2 separate regions of the Homo sapiens genome follow, and region 2 is linked to region 1. Evidence: fine-mapped expression QTL. Tissue or cell type: skeletal muscle. Region 1 holds a variant in brackets; the other region holds the start of a gene. All regions are shown on one strand. Distances are from middle to middle.

Region 1 (2,840 bases):
GGTACTCCTGAAAAGGACCTTACCTTCAACGTGTGGTTCGGTCACACGGTAGGAAATCGAGGAATACGCTTAAATTACAGGGTGAGGAAATGCTTTGTAACTCTGACAGGGTCTGAGCTAAGACAGGATGCATAGAGGACTGAAGTCCTGACAAAAGGACAGGTGGAGGTCGGGCATGGTGGCTCACGTCTGTAATCCCAGCACTCTGGGAGGCCAAGGCAGGTGGATCACCTGAGGTCAGGAGTTCGAGACCAGCCTGACCAACATGGTGAAACCCCGTCTCTACTGAAAGTACAAAAATTAGATGGGTGTGGTGGTGCATGCCTGTAATCCCAGCTACTGGGGAAGCTGAGGCAGGAGAATCGCTTGAGTCCAGGAGGCAGAAGTTGCAGGGAGCCAAGATCATGCCACTGCACTCCAGCCTGAGCGACAAAGTTGTCTCAAAAAAAAAAAAAAAAAAAAAAAGAAGGTGGGGGCAGGTGGCTCACCTACAGCCTACAGCCATGTCCTGCTTCACAGACATTCAACCTGTGCAGCTGCTCCAGGCCCAGAGCCCACAAGGGCCCATGTGTGGTTTCATGTGCTGCTGTCACTGCCTTGAAATCCTTGGTAATTTGGAGCAAGGAACCCTGCATTTTCATTCTGCACAGGACCCTGCAAATTCCATCGCCTATGCTCTCTCCTCTCCTGCCTTGAGGCCAGGAACAAACCTGCCAGCCCCATGGGTCCCCCTAGCCTGAGGACACAGAGCCACCTAGCTTTTCTTTGCAGGGAGAGAGTGAGCAGGTGGGGCCCAGAAGTCCCTGGGCTGGTAGAGCTGCAGTTCCTTTCTTGAGCCTGCCCAGCTCTCTGCTCTGGGCAAAAAGCCCCAAGGTCCAGCCAGACAGAAATAGCTGGGACAAACGCCCTCGTCTTACAACCCAGCCCCAGCCACCAGCACCACACATGCAATTCATATCTTCTTCCCTGGGCAGAAAAGGCTGGGCGGCTGCCCTATTTCTAGGCAGAGAAACCTGCCTTCCTTCGCAAGGGCAACTTTGCCAGGGGGATGACGGGGAAGAGCAGGAGGTGGGGATCGGGACGGAGGGTGGGTACGTTACCCCCGGGCAGGGTGATGGGCCCGCAGGTCTTGCTGTCGTCCATGGGGATGCGCTTGGTACAAATCCGCCAGAGGCCGAAGTGGGCCGCCTCGCAGGTAGTGTTGTGGTGCTCCATGTGGGGGCTCAGCACAGCCCAGTGGTCGGTTACCACGGCTGTCATGGCCAGCACGATGCCTGCCAGGATGCAGAAGAGGGTCACGCGGACCTTCAGCATTTTGGTCTGGGACATGGTGGTCGCCGAGGCGTGGGTGCCCTGGGCAGGGTCCGGCGGCTGCGTCTCCTAGGGCAGGTGACAAGCCGAGCTTGGGGGGTGGCAGTGGTTGTCGAGCTGGGAGTGGCCACTAAGTTTAGTGTGCCTGGCTGAGCCAGAGTGGGCTGGCCTTGGGGCCGAGGGACGCGGGACGTGCTGAGCAGCTGCCCAGACGCGTCAGGGGCCTGAGGGAGGCTGCTATTAATGCCCATCTCCAGGCGTGGCACCGAGGACAGCTTCTGCTCGGGTTTCAGGGTTTTCTGCCCCTCTGGGAGCCAGAAATACCCCAGTGCGGCGGGGCAGGGTGGCAAGGAGAGAAGGCTCTGGATGGT[A/T]GATTGAGGCCTCTGTGAGTAGCAGCTCAGGGTGCCTGAGTTGGGAGAGGGCGAGAGGTGGGCAGCAGGGCCCCGGGGGTGGGGATCTGCCTGCTCTGGGCTGATGGGAAAGGGCAGCCCAGGCCAGGGGAGGAGACCAGGAGCTGCGGGCTGCACGGCTGTCCCGGGCTCCCACGGGGTAAGCCTGTTACCGGCAGGGCAGTGAGTAGGTTCTCATCCTGGGATCTGAGGGGCTAGGATTCTGTCTAATGACATCCCGGGAACCCAGTCCAGGGCCTGTGGAGTCCACCTCTTAGGCAAGCGTTTTAGCCACAAACCCCACGGCATCCCCCAAACCATAGGAAGGTTTTAGGTGGTTCCCAGGTCTGGCCTTACCCAACTCTGATCCCTCCACGAGAACATTACTTCCTTTTCAATTCTCTTTCCATCCCCAAAACTGGGTCCAGAGCAAAGCTCTGTTCGAGGTCAGTGTCATTATTGCCTGTAAAGTGTCCTTTGAAACAAAGCGAGAACGGCCCGAAGAGGACGAGGAATCCTGCTGGACTTGGTCATTCTGTTTTTCAGGGCACTGTTTGGTTTTGCCTTCTATTAACAGCAGGTGATAACGACTTTCCAGTTATGTTTGAATTTGAAAAATAAGTGTGTGAGTAAAAAAGAATGAATAGGTTGATTTATAGGGGATCATTAGGAGCTCATGGGCGTGCAGAGAACACAGAAAGCCCGGGATCGACCACCCTCCGACGGTCCTGTGCACCCGCCTGGCCCCCAGGCTGGTCTCCGAGGCTCCAGCCTCTACATCTCTCCTGGGTTGTGTCATCTCTTCCTTCTCGGCTCACAGGGTGGCCCTTTTTGGGTGTAGCCGAGAGGCTGACGCATGACCAGGAATAGCCTCCTGAGCTGGGTGGGGCCTTGAGCTTCAAAATCCTGGCCTCAGATTGACACGATTTACAGAGACTCTGCCCATGTGGACAGAAATGTTTCGGCCTCCAGCCTTAGAATCACAGAAAGTTCATGATGATGATAATCAGAACAGTGGCTCATCTTCAGTGAGTGCTTACTATCTACCAGGTACCCTGCTAAGCCTTCATCCATTGTCACAGTTACTCTTCACACCAATCCACAAGGGGACTACAACGGTTACTGCCATTTCACAGACAA
Region 2 (2,644 bases), 80 kb after region 1:
GGGGTCGCAGCGCCCAGCTCCGACGAGATGACCACGCCCCTCCCAGTCTGTTCCCGGTCCGCAGATCGGTCCTGCACACCCTAGTTTCCTACTGAGGTCTCCGCAGCCTCCCTGCTGAGGGGCCGCGACCGAGGTCGCTGTCTCCGTTGGGGGAGACTCGGTGTCGCTCCCCTTACCACCCCACCGCACAGCGAGGAGCGGGCCGGTGACTCCGTGGGAGACGAGGCGGGCGTCGGGCTGGGCCTACCCAGCTACCCTAGATCCGCTAGGAACTCAGCCCCTACCCCGGCTCCGACCGCGCCCCCGCCCCTACTTCTGCCCCTACTTCTGCCCCCACCCCTCAGCCCGAGCCTGTAGAAAGCGCCCAGCGGCACCGACGCGCCCCGCCCCCGGCCGGCCCCGCCCCAGGATGGCCAGTTCCCATAGCAATAGCACAGACACCGGTTGCCAAGCAACCCCTCCCCCCCTCCCGTCCGCTCCCCCCAACCCCAGCCTCCTCCCGCCCCCTCGCCAGCCTCCACCTCCCCCGGGGGTGCCGGCGCGGCCCCTGGGGATCGCTCGGGTCCCGGGCTACGCGCGCGTGCTTGAGTTTCGGTGTGTTTCATTGTGTCTGTGGGCGAGGGGGTGTGCGCGTGGAGAGTTTGTGGGATCGGTGTGCTGGGGAGGTCCCCAGCCGAGAGGGACCAGAGCTGATGTACAGCTGGCCGCGAAGGGACCCGCCCGCCAGCTCCGGCTCCTTTGTGTCTCGCGCGGAGCCAGCGCCGCGCCCACCCTCTCCCCGGCCCGCGCGCCGGGCAGTGTGTGCGCGTGTGTGTGTGTGCGCGCGCGCGCGCGCGCGTGTGTATATGTGTGTGTGTGTGTGTGTGTGTGTGGGGCGGCGAGGGGTCGGGGCTGGCCGTACCTTCGATGCAGCACACCCGCCACAGACCAGAGTGGGTGAGGTCGCCGCGGGCGCGGCGGGGCGGGGGCCCGTCGTCCATGGTCAGGTTGGTGCCGTTGCAGATGTGCGCGCTGGAGTACAGCCAGTAGTCGGTGCCGATGGCGATGGCCATGAGCGAGAAGGCGGCGAAGGCTCCGGCCGTGGTCAGCAGCATCTGCAGCCCGCGGTCGCATCGCACCATGGTGGGCGCCTCATAGTCCGCCGCCCGCCGGCCCGGCCCGCCGCGCCCGCCCGCCCTCCTCCCTCCGCGCGCCGCTCCGGGGGCGCCGGGGTTGGGGGGCCGAGGGCCGGGGGGCGGCGCCGCGCTGCGCGCTCCGACCCCGCGCCCCGGGCGTGCCTGCGCTCCGGCAGCGCTGGGGCTCAAACTCCGAGGCGCGGCGACGAGTGCGGGCTGCGCGGCCGCCGGGCGGGCTGGCGGCGGCGGCCGGGGGCTCCTCCCTCTCCGCTCGCCCTCCCCCCTCGGCCCGCGCCTCCGCCCTGCGCCCTCCGCGCCTCCCCCGCCGCCGCCGCGCTCCGGGTCCGCGCCCCGTTTCTCTCGGCGCCGCCCCTCGAGCCTCGGCCCCCGCCCGGCTGTGCGCTCCTCTGAGCTCCCCTCTCTCCCCAGCCAGGATTTTCTCCCCCTCGCCTCCCTTCCCCTCGCCTCCCCTCCCCTCCCTTCCCCTCCCCTCCCCGCGCCCGCGCGCGCTCTCTCTCTCTCCCAGAGTTCATTCACATTATTGGAGTGAAGGAAGCCGAGGGAAGTGTTCCCCAGGAGGACCGAAGGGAAAGCGCGTCTCCAGCCACCTCTCTTACCCGCCCAGGACATCCAGCCTCCCCTCCGACGGCCCTGCGGATTCTTTAATTTGTGGAGGAGGGCGTGGGTGGGTGTGTCCCTCCTTTCCCCTCTGTGCCTGTTCACCTGGTGATGAAGGTGAGTGTGGGAGTGCGTGTTCAGGTCAGAATTCCTGAAACCCCAGATGTGGGACACAGCTGCCAGACCCTGCAAGCCACGCCAGGCCCGGGCCAGGCCCCACCCCAACCCAGGTGGTTCCTGCTCCTCCAGATCCCCTTGCAGGGCCTGGAAGGACCCTGACTTGGGGTTGAGGGAGAAGGGCGATGACAGCGAGAAGTCCTTTGGGGAGAACACAGGGTCTCTGCTTTCTAGAGTGGTGGCAAGGCTGAGATTGAAGATGGGGCGTTCCTCTGTGCTCACATTTCTGAGGGTCTATTACTGCTAGAGTCCAGGGACACTCCAGTTGTGTTAGATTCCAACACTCCACCCGCCAGCCTTTTCCCTTTCTCTCCCAACCTTTCGCAATGCCTTTATTTCGTTTTGCCTTTTGCTCTGCTCGAGCTTAACCGGCTTTCCCTCCCCTGGCCTTTATTGTCAGCCTCTGACCCCAACCCCTGCTGGCTTCACTTAATTGCCTTTGCTGCTGGCCGTGATCCCAACCTGGACACACTCCCTTCTCCAGGGAGCCGGTCCGGACTCCTCCTTCCAGACCCAGCTCCAAACCCCTCCCTCCAGGAGGTTCTCAGAGCCCAGCATCAGGAGGTGCAGCACCCTTTGACATGTCCAGGTGGTCCTGTTGTTGGCATCCCTGGCTGCACTGGACCCCAGGATATGGAAAAAGGTATAGGGAGTGCTGCTATTCTTGCAAGACGAAGCTTAACTTTCTTTGTGGCACCTTCCCTGGTCCCCACTCCCCGTGTTGAAATCACTGT

Alleles and levels. Alleles are on the strand shown, and positions count from the first base shown. SD is a standard deviation of normalised expression in the study named.
For the expression in skeletal muscle of the gene that starts at base 1,326 in region 2, A is the low allele of the variant in region 1 and T is the other (large effect, 1.3 SD a copy in GTEx).

What was found. PIP is the estimated chance that this variant, and not a neighbour inherited with it, causes the effect.
Region 2: CACNG4 starts here. The variant in region 1 is fine-mapped to the expression of CACNG4 in skeletal muscle (GTEx, PIP above 0.99).

The regions. Positions count from the first base shown.
Region 1 is chr17:67,043,150-67,045,989 of GRCh38, reverse strand. It overlaps CACNG1 (calcium voltage-gated channel auxiliary subunit gamma 1), which reads right to left and starts at 1,436. Exons shown (of 4, transcript NM_000727.4): 1 at 1,101-1,436. The coding sequence starts at 1,329. The variant A/T (reference allele first, on the strand shown) is at 1,683.
Region 2 is chr17:66,963,389-66,966,032 of GRCh38, reverse strand. CACNG4 (calcium voltage-gated channel auxiliary subunit gamma 4) reads right to left here and starts at 1,326. Exons shown (of 4, transcript NM_014405.4): 1 at 902-1,326. The coding sequence starts at 1,121.